Homo sapiens: one gene and its partner. The protein of the gene in region 2 purifies or fractionates together with the protein of the main gene of each other region. This does not show direct contact. Each region holds a gene or a part of one and is shown on either strand. Other genes may lie near its edges.

Region 1 (7,889 bases), on a different chromosome or scaffold from region 2:
CCCGCGTGCCCTGCAGCTAATTCTGGATGTGAGTTGGGACCTTTGGGAGTGGAATGTGGGCTGGGGCTCACTGAGCAGCGAGCTGCACCAGGGGTGCCGCTTCAGCCTCCAGCCTCCCTGCCGGGAGCCTGCGGCCGGTGGGAGGGGTCTCAACGAGGCCTTGGCCTGGCCTGGCCGCCTCTCCTAGGCTCCGTTTTCTTCTGGGAAATGGAGGTCTTTGGTCAAGGCTGAGTGGGGCCTGGAGAGGAGGGCGGGGGCTGCAAATGGGTCAGTGGCTGGCACCCCTCCCCAGGTGCTGAACCCCGAGACCAGTGAGGATGAGAATGACCGTGTGGTGGTGACGGACGATTCTGATGAGCGGCGGCTGAAGGGTGCAGAGGTGTTGCCAGCATGGGCCGGGCGGGGGCGGTGGGGAGTGGGACGATCGGGGAGGTGTGTGACGCGCCTGCCTCTACCACACAGGACAAGAGCGAGGAAGGTGAGGACAACAGAAGCTCAGAGAGTGAAGAGGAGAGCGAGGGGGAGGAGAGCGAGGAGGAGGAGCGCGACGGGGACGTGGATCAGGGCTTCCGGGAACAGCTGATGACCGTGCTGCAGGCTGGGAAGGCGCTGGTGAGTGGGGGAGGTGGAGGGGGGGGCGGCCGGGGAGGGCTCGGGTGTCCCCATGTTGTGTGCCTGCCCGAGGCCTGGCTGACCGCTGGGCCTCTGTCCCTCAGGGTGGAGAGGACAGTGAGAACGAGGAGGAGCTGGGGGATGAGGCCATGATGGCCCTGGACCAGAGCCTCGCCAGCCTCTTTGCCGAGCAGAAGCTGCGTATCCAGGCCCGGCGAGACGAGAAGAACAAGCTGCAGAAGGAGAAGGCTCTGCGGCGCGACTTCCAGATCCGGGTGAGCCTGGGGGCGGGCCGCACCCACCCCCGCCTCCCTGTGCGCCCACCCCCGCCTCCCTGTGCGCCCACCCCCGTGTTGCTGACCTGCCCTCCTGGCTGCAGGTGCTGGACCTGGTGGAGGTGCTAGTGACCAAGCAGCCCGAGAATGCCCTGGTCCTGGAGCTGCTGGAGCCGCTGCTGAGCATCATCCGGCGCAGCCTGCGCAGCAGCAGCTCCAAACAGGAGCAGGACCTTCTGCACAAGACGGCGCGCATCTTCACGTGAGCACGGGGGTGCAGGGCGGGCAGGTGTGGCCGGCAGCCCCCAGGCGCAGGAGAGCCAGAGCTCTAGGCTTGCTGTCTGCACAGGAAGGAGAGAGCCAAGCTTCCAGCCTGGGCCCCTAGCTCGCAGGCTCACTGCTCAGCCCTAGAGGCACACGTCACTTAGTGATTCCCACAGTCCTTGCTTCATCCCCGCGTTCTCCCGACACAGTGCCAACAGTGCCCTGGAGCTGGGGTCCATCCCTGCCCTTGACAGTCTCAAGTGGGGCTGTGCCAACAGTGCCCTGGAGCTGGGGTCCATCCCTGCCCTTGACAGTCTCAAGTGGGGCTGTGCTGGGGTGGAGGGGGACAGTGGGTGCACCTGTGGCAGGGGACACCCAACCCAGTCCTCGGAGGTGTAGTGTGCATGGGAGTTTGTCAGGCTGGGAGGCCTTGGGCAGGGCAGAAAGGGAGGAAGAGCATCCTGACGGGAGCTGGTCAGACACGCAGCTGGAAGGTCAGGCAAGCAGCGAGGCCACAGACCCCCGCACCCTCGCAGGCCCTGACCCTAGCGGTGCTGGAGGCCACAGAGGCATTATCAGCAAGAGCAGTGGCGTGGGGAAGGGTCTGAGTCTGGTTTGCCTTTTCAGAAACGGCTGGCAGCGTGGAGAAGGGTTTGGGAGGGGCTGTGCTGGAGGCAGAGGGCCCAGGAGGGAGGCGGTGGCAGGCGTGGGAGAGACAGGCAGGCACCTGGTAGACCTGCCTTCAGAGCTCAGGTGCTGGGGAGGTGAAGGCCTGGGAGCTGGGGCGCTGCGTGGATAGTCAGGAGGGGTGGGGAGTGTGACTGGCAGTGCATTCTTCACAAACCCAGGCCCGCCCGGGCCACGCCTTCTCAGATAGTTCTGCCAGCGTGCGTGGACAGTGTCGTTTGTTGAGCATCCTGCCTCTTGCCCCCATTATATCCCCGGCCCTGCAGGGCCACAGAGGGTTCTAAGCACATGAACCCTTGTCTCGCTTTACAAAAGGCCTGAAGGCCACTGCCCCATGAGAGACAAGTGTAGACAGGAGGGGTGCCCCAGGCAGGCAGTTGGCCCTTGGTGCAGCCTCCACTCAGGGAGCTGTTCTGTTCTCCCCTGGAGCGCCCCTGTCACCCCAGCACTCTGAGCCCACACAGCTTCCAGGCAGCCTGCAGGCGGCCCTGGGCCCTCCTCTGTGGCCTGGGTCGCCTCTGTCGTCTTCTAGGTCTGTTTCCCCACTTATAAAGTGGGACTTGGGTTGGCTCTGCTTGGCGGAGCAGGGTGGACCGAGAATGTTCTGACCAGCTCTCGTCCTCACCACCCACAGGCACCACCTGTGCCGTGCCCGGCGCTACTGCCACGACTTGGGTGAGCGCGCAGGGGCCCTGCACGCCCAGGTGGAGCGGTTGGTGCAGCAGGCTGGCCGCCAGCCCGACTCCCCCACCGCCCTCTACCACTTCAACGCCTCTCTCTACCTGCTCCGGGTCTTGAAGGGCAACACTGCTGAGGGCTGCGTGCATGAGACACAGGAGAAGCAGAAAGCTGGCACTGACCCCAGCCACATGCCCACGGGCCCGCAGGTGAGCAGGGCCTGGCCCAGGAGCAGCCCCAGGCATTTCACAGCCAGGGAGTGGAGGCCGGGACTTCCCCAGGGCCCAACCCTCAGCCTTCTGATGAAGGTAGGCCAGGCTCTGCTCCCATCCCAGGGACCCCTCTCCTGGCCTCACCCAGCTCGCTCTCCCCTGGCCTAGGCTGCCAGCTGCTTGGACTTGAACCTGGTGACCCGGGTGTACTCGACAGCACTGAGCTCCTTCCTGACCAAGCGCAACAGCCCCCTCACAGTTCCCATGTTCCTCAGCCTCTTCTCCCGGCACCCGGTGAGTGTTGGGGCCTGCCCTGCTTCCTCATGGTCCCTGCTCAGCCCAGCCTGCACCTCACAGCCCTTGTCACTCCCCACCAGGTGCTCTGTCAGAGCCTGCTCCCCATCCTGGTCCAGCATATCACGGGCCCGGTGCGGCCCCGTCATCAGGTGAGAGACTTCCCAGCTCCCAGCCCAGGGCCTGTCTGAATTAACCCGCTTAACCCTCTTCTGACTGGATATTGTGAGGCCCCAGAGCGCTGTCCTGGTGAGCACGGGCACAGCTGTCCCTGCCCCACTGGCTTGGCTGTGGGTACATGGTCTCTGAAGGGGGTGGCCGTGCCCTGGCCCCTGCCACACAGTGAACACACAGGAGCTGAGGGGGCAGGGCCAGCCTCACTCCCGCAGCCACTGCTGCCCATCTGGCCACACACAGGATGCCCCTGGTAGTGTCTGCTCTGGTGCCAGGGCTGTTGGGGGCAGGCTGGAGGAAGATGGCACTAAGCCAATAATGGGCAGGAATTGTCCCAACCTGAGGTCCCACCTCTATCCAGCTGGGAGGCCTTGGTGTCCCCACCTGCACACAAAGGCACAGGAGCAGGTAGTCACAGAGCCCAGAGCAGCAGGCAGCCTCACACGCTGCCCACAGCAGTGCCCAGCGGGCCCCCGAGCCCTCATGCATCCCTGAGCCGTGAGCACCCAACGTGCCAAGGCTCCTGCCACCCACCTTTGCCCACCCACAGGCCTGCCTGCTGCTCCAGAAGACCCTGTCCATGCGGGAGGTGAGGTCGTGCTTTGAGGACCCCGAGTGGAAGCAGCTGATGGGCCAGGTCCTAGCAAAGGTCACCGAGGTAACAGCCGGGGGGCGCCCTTTCCCCACCCCCTCAGAATCAGTTCTCCGGGAGACCGATCTCTGGGAAAGAAGTGAGGATTGGAGCCTGAGTCCAGAGTCGGGAGAACTGGGGTTGTCCCAGGAGACGGTCCCTGCCTCTGGGCTTTACTTCCGGCTGGGAAACAGAAAGGCTTTGAGCAGCTCTCCGGAGTGCCTCAGCCTGGCCACCCTTCCCTAGAACTTGCGCGTGCTGGGGGAGGCGCAGACCAAGGCGCAGCATCAGCAGGCACTGTCCTCCCTGGAGCTGCTCAACGTTCTCTTCAGGACCTGCAAACATGAGGTGAGGCGGGGGCCCAGTCCGCGGTCGTGTTCGGGTTCCTCTTGGGGGCCTTGGGGCCTCCCGGCCAGCAGTGCCATGCCCGGGCTGGACTGCAGGGATGGGGGTCATGTGGGGAAACTTCTCAGTGCCTGGGCCAGGGCTCTGGGCTGCCATTTGGGCAGTTACCAAACCATGGATGGGTGAGTGACTTGGGAAGGGACTGTGCCACCCTGTCCTCCTCCTGCAGGGCGGGGTGAGAGGGGGTGGGGTGGCACTGCCACATCCCGTGAGAAAGCCGAGAAGGGGCTGGCAGGGCTGGAGACTGTGGAAGGGTTGGAGAAGATTCAGGGTGAGCAGCCAGGTTTCCAGGCCTGGTACAGGAGTGTGGGCAGCCATCAGGGCAGGGCTGGGAGGCAGCTGGAGGTGGCCATCTGGGTCCCCCGGTCTGGCCCAGAGGGCGGGGTTTGGGAATCTTCAGCATAGGTGCTAGTCAGCCCTTGTGGAGGGAGAGCTTGCCAAGGGGGTGCTGGCAGGCAGAGGCGGGGCCCGGGACGGGGCCTTACAAAACTGGCTGATAGTGAGGAAGCCAGGAGAGCAGGGCTCCCGGAAGCTGGCGGATTCCAACAATAACCCATTCAGGATGTGCAGGAAGGTGGCAGGGTTGGGTGGGGAAGCGCTTTGGCAGCCCCGCGGTGATGGAGTGCTGGGGAGTGGCCCTCTTGGAGGTGGGTGGGCCCGGGCCACTGCTGGAGGGGAGGACACCGAGACTCTGAGACCAGGCCTTTGGCTATGGGAAGGAGGAGAACCAACACCTGGGGCGCGTGTTTCCTCCCTCGGTAAGAGACACGGATGACTTAACAGGCAGAAGGAGAGGCTGAGGCCCAGGAAGGGGCAGGGGTCACTGGTGAGGCAGCAACAGGGCAGAGGTGGGAAGACTGGGAGCCCGCGAGAGGCCCCGCCCTCTGTGGCCCCACAGCTCTGCCTTCCCACCCTCTGCAGAAGCTGACCTTGGACCTGACGGTGCTCCTGGGTGTGCTGCAGGGGCAACAGCAGAGCCTACAGCAGGGGGCACACTCCACCGGCTCCAGCCGCCTGCACGACCTCTACTGGCAGGCCATGAAAACCCTGGGAGTCCAGTAGGTTCTGGGAGGGGGACACACACCTTGGGTAGGGGCTGGGAACACCCTCACGCTGCTGCACACACACACACGCTGCACACACGCTGCTGCACACGCACACTGCACACGCATGCTGCTGCACACACATGCACTCAAGCGCATTCTCAGATGTGGGAGCTGTAGGACCCTCACAGGACCCTCGCAGGAGCCTCGCAGGACCCTCGCAGGACCCAGGGGCCTCGCAGGACCCTCATAGGACCCTCACGGGACCCTCATAGGGGCCTCACAGAACCTAGGGGCCTCAGAGGACCCTCAGAATCCAGGTGGAGGTAGCAGTCGCGGTGGCGGTGGCTGCTGCCCTCGATGGGCACCTTCTAACCTTGCTCACTTCCCTTCAGGCGCCCCAAGTTGGAGAAGAAGGATGCCAAGGAGATCCCCAGTGCCACCCAGAGCCCCATCAGTAAGAAGCGGAAGAAAAAGGGATTCTTGCCAGAGACGAAGAAGCGCAAGAAACGCAAGTCAGAGGATGGCACGCCAGCGGAGGATGGCACACCTGCAGCCACCGGCGGGAGCCAGCCCCCCAGCATGGGCAGGAAGAAGAGGAACAGGACAAAGGCTAAGGTCCCAGCCCAGGCAAACGGGACGCCAACCACCAAGAGTCCAGCCCCTGGCGCCCCCACCCGGAGCCCCAGCACCCCTGCCAAATCCCCAAAACTGCAGAAGAAAAACCAGAAGCCGTCCCAGGTGAATGGAGCTCCCGGGTCCCCCACGGAACCTGCAGGCCAAAAGCAGCATCAGAAGGCTCTTCCCAAAAAGGGGGTCTTGGGCAAATCACCACTGTCCGCGCTGGCACGGAAAAAGGCAAGGCTGTCTTTGGTCATCAGGAGTCCCAGCCTGCTTCAGAGTGGGGCCAAGAAGAAAGCACAGGTGAGGAAGGCAGGGAAGCCCTGAGCACAGGTACGGGCCCCCCTCAGCCCCTGCCTCCATCTGCCTGAGACGCCTATTTTTTTTTTTTTTTTTTAAACCATGATTTTAATACGCAAGCTGTTTCTAAGGCGCTGCCACTGGGGAGGGTGGCTGTTGCCGCCTGCCCGGGCATCCTGCTCTGGCAAGCACAGCCTGAGCCATTCCTGCAGGGGTCCCAGGGTGCAGAGACCTCCCCACCCCCGGTTCTGGGCTGGGACCCTGGCTCCAGGGCCATGTCCAGGGCTCTGGTGTTTGCCTGGGTTGGTGCAGGTTGATGTGCTGGCTGCAGGCAGGTGTGACCATCTCTCGTGCCTGCCACCTCTTTGCCCCCAGGCTTTTTTGCTGTGAGGGAGCCACCAGGGGGTGATTTAAATAGGTTTATTTCTTCATTTACAAGAGGAATATATTTGGCTTCTCTCTTAAGACTCTGAGATTCACAATCAGCAGCTCTAAAAAATAAAGGAGCAGTTTGGCTTCCGGAAGGAAGAGGAGGCAACACTCGGACCTGGTTCTTGTACAACAAGAAAACATCGCTGGGGCCCCGCTGAGGCTGGAGTGGGGGTGGAGGCTGGTCTTTGGAGGATGCCACCCCCACCCCATCCTCTTGTCAGGCCCTCGGGGTACCCCAGAGCTTGGTGGGTGAGTATTCCACCTGCTTACACACCACTGAAGCCACAGCCAGCCAGTAACTAAGGGGCAAGAAGAGCATTGTCCAAGCTGGCTCTTGGGGGGTCCCCCATTGGCCACAAGGCCTCACCCCCCACCCCACCCCCGCACCAGAACCACCTTGATTGCAGCAGAAGTGCAGGGAGTGGGTGACGCAGGGGGCTAAGCTCCCCCAAAGCGGGTTGGGGCTGGTGTGAAGTTGGCAGCTGCATCCTGGTGTGTGCATGGATGGGAGGTGGGTGATCGAAGGCCTGGCCCCCCCCTGGGGTCACTTGGTGGAATGCCAGCAGCCAGTGTTTGGGTAGGGGCCGCCTCTCCCGGGGCCTCAGCCTCAGCTCTGGGGCAGGAAGCTTTGTGGATAGCTGCTTCCTCCAGCAGCCGGAGCCCTGGCTACTGCCCCATGGATTCTGGGAATGGTCTCCTGGGCCCTGCCCCTGGAAAAGGCTCAGCTCAGCCTCGGGGAAGGAGTGGGGTCCTGGCTTGGGGGGTGGTGGCAGGGAGAGAAGCCCTGCAGAGTTGGGCTGGTGTGCACCTGCCAGAGACCTTGAGCCTGGGGGCACAGGTGGTGTACAGCTGCAGCCAGGGCCTTCACCCCTGGTGATGCCAGCTTGTCAGAACAGTCCCCATCTGGGACCTCCAGGCTGGGAGCCAACCCGAGACAGTGAGACAGTGTCCTCCAGGGAGTACCCAGAGACTTGGGCGCCCAGCTTCATTTGCCAGGTTGCGTCCAATATCCCCAAGGTCCGAGGCCCAGCTGAGCAGTGGTCCCTGCATACCAGGCCCTCGCGTGAGCCTCAAAGCCGGGACTGCCGCCCTGAGGCCTGGGCCACCTGCTCTCCGTATGGTCCAGGGTCTGTTGAGTCTTCAAAGCTGCAGATCGTGCTTTGCCCAGCAAGTTGTGTGGGAAAGTCCAGCCCCCTGGCCCTTCGTTCCAGGGAGGGCAGGGACTTGCCCAAGATCACATAAGCTGGTGGCAGGCCAGGCT
Region 2 (8,115 bases):
TTCCAGTGCTGAACCGATCTTAGGGTGTCCCTCAATCCTGGCCTCCCATGTGGGAGCCCAGATAGTCCTGCCCCCCAATGTGGGAGCCCAGATAGTCCTGCCCCAAGGCTGGAGGGAGAAAGGCCAGCTCCCCACGTCATCCCAGCCCCGCACCTCACCTGCGCTTCCCAGCAGCCTTTGGCAGCGTAGTCCCTGAGTTTTCGGAAGCTGTGGAGGCATCGCCCAGGATCTGACACCTGTCAATGGGAGATCACCGAGCCTTTGTACAACTGTGTCTTGGGAGGAACTCAGAACCAAGACCCAGAAGGGCCGACACTACGCTAACTTCCCACCTCTTCTCTCTCAAATGGTGGAGTCATTTTTGGGGGTACCAAGAATAGCCGACTGACCAGTGGTTCCCGGAGGCTGAGAGACCGGGAGCAGCAAGAGCCACCTCCCTTTTGTGGACAGAAACGCATCCAAGGACCAGCATCAACTACGCCTTTGTCCAGCATAACTCCCCCCGACCCAGAGCAGGCACCACTCACATCTGTCCTCCTGTCGCTTTCCCAGAGGAGGTAGGAGCTGGTCAGACATCCCTGATGAGCAGCCTCCTCAAACAGGTCATGGGCCTGCTGCTGCTTCTCCTCATCCTAGAATAAATCCCAGCAGAGTTCATTGTTCCCTTATTCTTTTTCATTTTTATTTTTTGAGACAGTTTCACTCGTCGCCCAGGTTGGAGTGCAATGGCGCCATCCTGGCTCACTGCAACCTCCGCCTCCTGGGTTCAACCAATTCTCCTGCCTCAGCCTCCTGAGTAGCTGGGATTACAGGAGCCCACCATCATGCCCGGCTAATTTTTGTATTTTTAGTAGAGACGGGGTTTCACCATGTTGGCCAGGCTGGTCTCAAAATCCTGGCCTCAGGTGATCCACCCACCTCAGTCTCCCAAAGTGCTGGGATTACAGGCATGAGCCACTGTGCCTGGCTGGTTTTTTTGTTGTTGTTGAGGCAGAGTCTCCCTCTGTCACCCAGGCCAAAGTATAGTGGCACGATCTTGGCTAACTAAAACCTCAGCTTCCCGGGTTCAAGCAACTCTCATGCCTCAGCCTCCCAAGTAGCTAGGATTACAGGTGCCCACCACCATGCCCGGCTAATTTTTGTGTTTTTTAGTAAAGACGTGGTTTCAACACATTGGCCAGGTTGGTCTCAAACTCCTGACCTCAGGTGATCCACCCGCCTCGGCCTCCCAAGGTGCTGGGATTACAGGAATGAGCCACCATGACCGGCCCTTATTCTTTACTTGATGTTCAATCACTCTACTCACCATCTTCCTCCTTTTCCATACTTTTTTTTTTTTTTTCTGAGACTGAGTCTCACTCTGTTGCCAGGCTGGAGTGCAGTGGTGCAATCTCGGCTCACTGCAACCTCCGCTTCCCAGGTTCAAGCAATTCTCCCTGCCTCAGCCTCCTGAGTAGCTGGGATTATGGGCACCCGCCACCACGCCCAGCTAATTTTTGTGTTTTTTAGTAAAGACGTGGTTTCACCATTTTGGCCAGGCAGAGAGGTCCACACGAGCAGGAGAGGCCCACGAGGAGCAGGGCCAGCAGACGAGTGAGCATCGAGGTTCGATGCCTCCTTGAGATCTGCTCTGCTGTTCTCACCGTCCCCCACTCCCCTGCCAGGCGGGTCATGGAGCCAGGATCGGAGCCCGTGGCCAGGCCCACATGTGTCCCCTGGCTTCTCCAGCTAGGCCTTTCTGGGCAAGGCTTGCCTTTTGTTTTGGGCCTTGGACACCCCCTTCTGCTGCTTTTCAGTTCCAGGATCTCGGCTAGGGATGTATCGAACACAAAGTCCCAGTGCAGAGAACAACTTGACTCACCTCGAACAGACTCAGCACTCTGCCCAAGCAGTGCAATATGGATGCTTTGTGAGTCTTTAAAAAAAGGAGAAAGAAGTGTGATTTCCAGCACAGAGAACTGCCCGGGGGCCACCACTCCCTTGTCTGTCTTTGGGTCCCATGCCCATGGCCCTGCTGTCTGGCCCTCCCTCCCCTGCAGAGGGCCACTCCCAGATTTCAGTCTTTTTTTTTTTTTTTTTTTAAAGGGAAACAGGGTCTTGCTCTGTCACCCAGGCTGGAGTGCATTGGCATAGTCACGGCTCATTGCAAGCTCAACCTCCCAGGCTCAAGCGATCCTCCCACCGCAGCCTCCTGAGTAGCTGGGACTATAGGTATGCACCACCACCCCTGGCTAACTTTTTTGTATTTTTTGTAGAGACGAGGTTTCGAGATTTCATCATGTTGCCCAGACTGGTCTCGAACACCTGGCCACAAGCAATTCTCCAGCCTCGGCCTCCCAAAGTGCTAGGATGACAGGCGTGAGCCACCACACCTGGCCAGATTTGTGTCTTGAGCTCCCACTGCCCCATGCAGCCTCAGCCCCATGTTTCCAGCTGTCAGCACGTGTACCCAGAACTCCACAGCCCACCCTGGCTCTCAGGCTTCCTCCTCTGTGCCAGCTGATTTCCAGATGCGTTCCCCATATCTGCACTCTCAGTTTTCTGCATCTTCACTTCCCTTAGGCTCCTGACTTTCCAGGGTCCAGGATCTACCCTCGGGGTCTTCCTGTGTCCTGGGACCCTGCAGGTGGCCTCGCAGGTGCTGCCCCTCGCCCAGACTCACCCTCTGCAGCTGGCACTCTGCCCTGAGGCTCTCGTGAACCACGGCCTTGCAGCAGCTTCCGCTCACCGACCACGGAGGGCGGATGAAGAGCCAGATGAAAGGTGCGGCACCCACATTCAGCCGCTCAGCGAGACTGAAGAAGCGAGAGGCCTTCAGGCCATTCACTTCTGCGCGGGCCTCATCAGACACAGACACTGCGGGGACAGACAGGACAGAGCCCAGGGATGTCTCTTAGGGACGGAATGTGGAAAGCTCTCCATGGTCTTGGTGGAAAGTGTAATGCCTGAAGCCCACCATAGTGCAAAGCAGCTGTGTTTCAGGAGAGTAGAGCCCTCCAGGATGGGGGCACCTGTCTTTTCTCCCCCTACTTCATTAATGTCTAGAACAGGTGGGTCATTGTGATCAATGCCCCTGCTGTGGTCCTCCCGGAAGCCTGGATTCTGAAGGTCAGGGGAAGGAGACCCCGCGACGCTTCATGTCCCACCCTCCCTCCAGCTGGGAACCACCGCCTGACCCCTGGTAATGGGTCCAGGGCAGGGGTGGGGGTTCTTTTTGGGACGAGGAGAATATTCTAAAATTAGACAGTGGCAATGGCTGCACAACCCTGTGAATATCCTAAAAAACCACAGAATTGCAGGCTTTAGAGGGGTGAACTGTATGGTGTGTGAATTTTATGTCTGGGAACTGCTCTTTGATGGGAGGGTAGGGGTAGGACCTCGGCTCCCCTGATTCTGGAGGAGGGTGTTGCTCATGGTCCCTGTCAGTCACAATTCTGCCAGCCGGCCAGGTAGGGACTCTCTCCCAGCAAGACACCAGATCGTTTAGAAGTACAAATGTGGGAGGCTACATCCCAGTGTTTACTTGTTTTGAGAGCTGGGACAGATCATGGGCTCGTTCCTTGGGGTGCTGAGCAGATAAGCAGTTAACTGGTAGAAGAAAAGGCTGCGCAAGTTTCTTTCAAGGAGCACCTGGCCTCTGGGGATGAAGGGATCCAGGCACCAGGCCAGTTCTAACCTGCCTGTACCTGCTTCCCGTTTAGAAGCCTGGCTCTGTGTTACAGGGCACGCTGAACTCTGTCTCGAGAGTTCTAAGAGGATGGCCAAGGAGAGGGCCAGCATCCACAGGCAGGTCTGCGTGCTCATGGCGCACAGGGCAGGGAGCCCAAACAGCCCCCGTGCTGAGGCTCTGGCTCAGTCACTCTTTGCCAACTGAAATTAAAGGGTTTGCTAAAACAAGAGGCGACTTTCGTAACCTGCAAAGTCAGAGTATCATTAGCAGGTCCCTCAGCAGGGTACATCTGGGCACGAGCTCCTGAGAGGGAATGGGGAGGCAGGCCATCGGATAGAGCAAGGACAGCAACTGAACTGCTAACACGGGGACCACTTCTTCATAGGGCCAAAGGCTCACACTTATCTGAAGCGCCAACATGCAGGTGGGGTGAGGACTTACGGCCTTCATTGTAGAGGTAGGCTATGCCCAGCTTCACAGCAGCTTCGAAATTCCCCTTTTCAGCAGCCCTGAAACATTAAGAACATAAAGCATCACAATATTTTATGCCACAAACGTTATGAACTACTACAGCACTTGAAGAAGTCAGAATACTTGTTCCCTGAATTGAATATATATATATATATATATATATATATATATATATATGTGTGTGTGTGCATATATATATGTGTGTGCATATATATGTGTGTGTGTGTGTGCATATATATATATATATCTCTCTCTCTCTGAGACAGGGTCTTGCTCTGTTGCCCAGGCTGGAGTGCAGTGGTGCGATCACAGCTCACTGCAGCCTCAACCTCCTGGGCTTAAGCCATTCTCCCACCCCGGCATCCCAAGTAGCTAGGACTACAGGCATGTGCCACCATGCTCAGCTAGTCAAAAAAAAATATTTTCTTTTCTAGAGACAGGGTCTTGCTATGTTGCCCAGGCTAGTCTTGAATTCCAGACCCAAGTGATCCTCCTGCCTTGGCCTCATAAAGTGCTGGGATTATAGGCTTGAGCCATCATGCCCGGCTCTAGAACATTTCTTTTTTTTTTTCTTTTCTTTTCTTTTTTTTTTTTGAGACGGAGTCTGCTCTGTTGCCCAGGCTGGAGTGCAGTGGCGCAATCTCGGCTCACTACAAGCTCCGCCTCCCAGGTTCACACCATTCTCCTGCCTCAGCCTCCCGAGTAGCTGGGACCACAGGTGCCCGCCACCACGCCTGTCTAATTTTTTCTATTTTTAGTAGAGACGGGGTTTCACCATGTTAGCCAGGATGGTCTCGATCTGATCTCATGATCCACCCGCCTCGGCCTCCCAAAGTGCTGGGATTACAAGCGTGAGCCACCACGCTCGGTCGAACATTTCTTAATAACATGTAATCAAATACGAATTATCCATTACATGCTATGACACAGATGAACCTTGAAAACATCAGGGTCCGTGAAAGAAGCCAGCCACGAAAGACCACGTGTTGCATGATTCCATGTGAAATCCTCACAAAAGGCAAATCCGGAGAGACAGAAAATCAATTAGGGGTTGTCTAGAGTTTCCAGGATTGTGGGGAAAATGGGAAGTGACTGCTGATGGGGACAAGCTTTCTTCTTGGGGTAAGGAGAACGTTCTAAAGTTAAGTACTGGTGATGTCTGTACAACTCTCAGTATACTAAAAACCAATGAGTTATACATTTTATTTATTTATTTACTTATTTATTTATTTTGAGACGGAGTCTCGCTCTGTTGCTCAGGCTGGAGTGCAGTGGTGCGATCTCGGCTCACTGCAACCTCTGCCTCCTGGGTTCAAGCAATTCTCCTGCCTCAGCCTCCTGAATAGCTGGCATTACAGGCATGTGCCACCACCCAGCTAATTTTTGTATTTTTAGTAGAGACAGGGTTTCACCATGTTGCTCAGGCTGGTCTCAAACTCTTGACCTCGTGATCCGCCCGCCTTGGTCTCCCAAAGTGCTGGGATTACAGGCGTGAGCCACTGTGCCCAGCCATATTTTATTATTTTATTATTATTTTTTTGAGACAGTCTTACCCCATCACCCAGGCTGGAGTGCAATGGCGCAATCTTGGCTCACTGCAACCTCCACCTGCTGGGTTTAAGCAATTCTCATGCTTCAGCCTCCAGAGTAGCTGGGACTACAAGTGCCCATCACCGCATCCAGCTAATTTTTGTATTTTTAATAGAGACAGGGTTTTGCCATGTTGGCCGGGCTGGTCTCGAACTCCCGACCTCAAGTGATCCACCCGCCTTGGCCTCCCAAAGTGCTGGGAATACAGGTGTGACGCCACACCCGGCTGAGTTATACACTTTAAATGGATGAATTGTGTGATGTGTGGATAATGTCTCAATAAGAAATATATACATTCCCCCTGGAAGCAGCCCAAGCATGGCCGCGGCAACATGGCTGCCTGCCCTGGTTGGCTGTCGATCTGGATTTCTGGCAACTCAGATGGACGAGGCTCACAGCGAATCCCTGTCAGAAAAATGCCCGCCTGAGATCAGGAGGTCAGGAGATCGAGACCATCCTGGCCAACATGGCGAAACCCCATCTCTACTAAGAATACAAAAATTAGATGGGCGTGGTAGCGCGTGCCTGTAATCCTAGCTACTCAGGAGGCTGAGGCAGGAGAATCGCTTGAACCAGGAGTTGGTGGTTGCAGTGAGCTGAGATTGCACCACTGCACTCCAGCCTGGTGACAGAGCGAGACTCCGTCTCAAGAAAAAAACAAAAACGAAAACAAAAAACAAAAAACAACAACAAAAAAGAAAAATCCCCGCCTGAGCTGTGGTTCCTTGGTTTGTTCTGAGGGCGGCGGGTACCTGGGACCATGAGCACATGTGAACAGGGGCCAGGGTGCGGGGTGCAGGTTGGGGTGGGATCAGCCAGTGAGTGAAACGCTATAGGATAGAATTCAGATGGTTTTGACCAAAGGGAAGGAAGGCTGAGTGAAGTTTCCACAGGAAGGTGACTCTTGTCTGGGTCATGTGGGAATGGATCACAGCCCTCTGGAGGCACCACGGGCCCGTGTCAGTGGCGTGAGGGATGACTGACTGCATAGCCTGCTGGAAGGTGTGTGGCTTGTGCGGCCTGATGCGTGAGGTCTGCCACCCTCAGTCACTCCCCAGGGTATGAGGCAATGTCATGGGAGACAGCAACAGGAAAATCGTTGCTGAATCAGGCCGTGAGACACAGACTGGCACATAGGGAGGCCAAGGCAGGAGAAGACTGAGCCATTCTCAGGGTGCAGAGATACCTTTCAAAGAGCTTCAGGTTCCCTGGAGACGGCCACAGCTCCTGGAAGCTGGCACATGCCCACACACTGGCGTGGTTGTCCACCAGGTCCTTCAGCTGGGAGTGTACCTGCAGAACAACGGGGGCCGGGGCTGGGTGATGGAGGCACCACCCAAAAGCCCCACACCTGGAGGCTCTTGAGGACGAGAGGCAGATGTAGGGTCTCCTGTCTCCCTCGCCATCCCAAGTAGTTGAGGTCCCCAATCTCTGTGTGAAAGTAACTGTCACTTTGAGCAGATAAAAGAGCCCAGAAACGAGTTTCTCTGAGGTTCTAAAGCAGGGCAGAGGACAATGATCTGGGAAGGAGGAAACAAACACCTAGGCTGAGAAAGAGGGTTCAACATCCCTGCAAAGGTATCACCCCCAAAGACAGGGGAAACACTCTAAAAGGGGGCAGGCAGGACGGAAATGTGTTTTGTGCTTCCCCGCTGGAGGCCTTGCTAGTGGGAGTGTGGAAACAGGTCACAGGGACTCAGGGCAAAGAACAACACCCATGATGGAGGTCTCAGGTAGAACCCGGAGCCTAAGCGCTGGGCCAACGCAGGAGTGTCCAGGCCAGGACCTGGAGCACAGGTGAACACTTTAAGCACCAAAGTTTCCACTGCCATTGGAAATTCAGCACCCCCTGGGGTCCATAAAGTGTGTCGCACCTGCAATGGAGGTGGCTTTGGGAGTCAGAAAATGGGTTCTTGCTGGCATTTCCCCATGAATCCACTATATACTCTAGGTTAAGTCACTCAAAGTAAGCCTATGGTTCCAATATCTAGAAAATAACTCCTAGAGTCCATTTCAGTGTTAAATGTTACATGGAATTTGTCCTCAAGAATGTATTCTTATTCTTTTAAACACTATCCTATTTTTTAAGGGATGCAAATTTCACTGCCATAAAAGGGTACTTTCAGCCGGGTGCAGTGGCTCATGCCTGTAATCCCAGCACTTTGGGAGGCCGAGGCGGGCGGATCACGAGGTCAAGAGATAGAGACCATCCTGGCTAACACAGTGAAACCCCAACTCTACTAAAAATACAATAAATTAGCCGGGCGTGGTGGCGGGTGCCTGTAGTCCCAGCTACTCGGAAGGCTGAGGTAGGAGAATGGCATGAACCTGGGAGGCGGAACTTGCAGTGAGCCGAGATTGCGCTACTGCACTCCAGCCTGGGT

What was found.
Region 1: the proteins of CCNF (region 2) and MYBBP1A purify together in Homo sapiens (affinity purification with mass spectrometry, with the first as the bait; 2 studies listed by BioGRID). This does not show direct contact.

Annotation. Positions count from the first base shown.
Region 1 is NC_000017.11:4,537,749-4,545,637, reverse strand, and holds the end of MYBBP1A (myb-binding protein 1A), read left to right. Parts: coding exon 1-28; intron 29-292; coding exon 293-379; intron 380-462; coding exon 463-612; intron 613-716; coding exon 717-887; intron 888-991; coding exon 992-1,149; intron 1,150-2,472; coding exon 2,473-2,725; intron 2,726-2,896; coding exon 2,897-3,022; intron 3,023-3,105; coding exon 3,106-3,174; intron 3,175-3,746; coding exon 3,747-3,854; intron 3,855-4,073; coding exon 4,074-4,175; intron 4,176-5,153; coding exon 5,154-5,290; intron 5,291-5,670; coding exon 5,671-6,223; 3' UTR 6,224-6,662; coding exon of another isoform or gene 6,663-6,698; 3' UTR 6,699-6,734; downstream 6,735-7,889. UniProt on the Homo sapiens protein: May activate or repress transcription via interactions with sequence specific DNA-binding proteins. Repression may be mediated at least in part by histone deacetylase activity (HDAC activity).
Region 2 is NC_000016.10:2,431,870-2,439,984, reverse strand, and holds part of CCNF (cyclin-F), read right to left. Parts: intron 7,025-8,115; coding exon 6,918-7,024; intron 4,180-6,917; coding exon 4,112-4,179; intron 2,857-4,111; coding exon 2,663-2,856; intron 1,916-2,662; coding exon 1,862-1,915; intron 633-1,861; coding exon 528-632; intron 237-527; coding exon 159-236; intron 1-158. UniProt on the Homo sapiens protein: Substrate recognition component of a SCF (SKP1-CUL1-F-box protein) E3 ubiquitin-protein ligase complex which mediates the ubiquitination and subsequent proteasomal degradation of target proteins.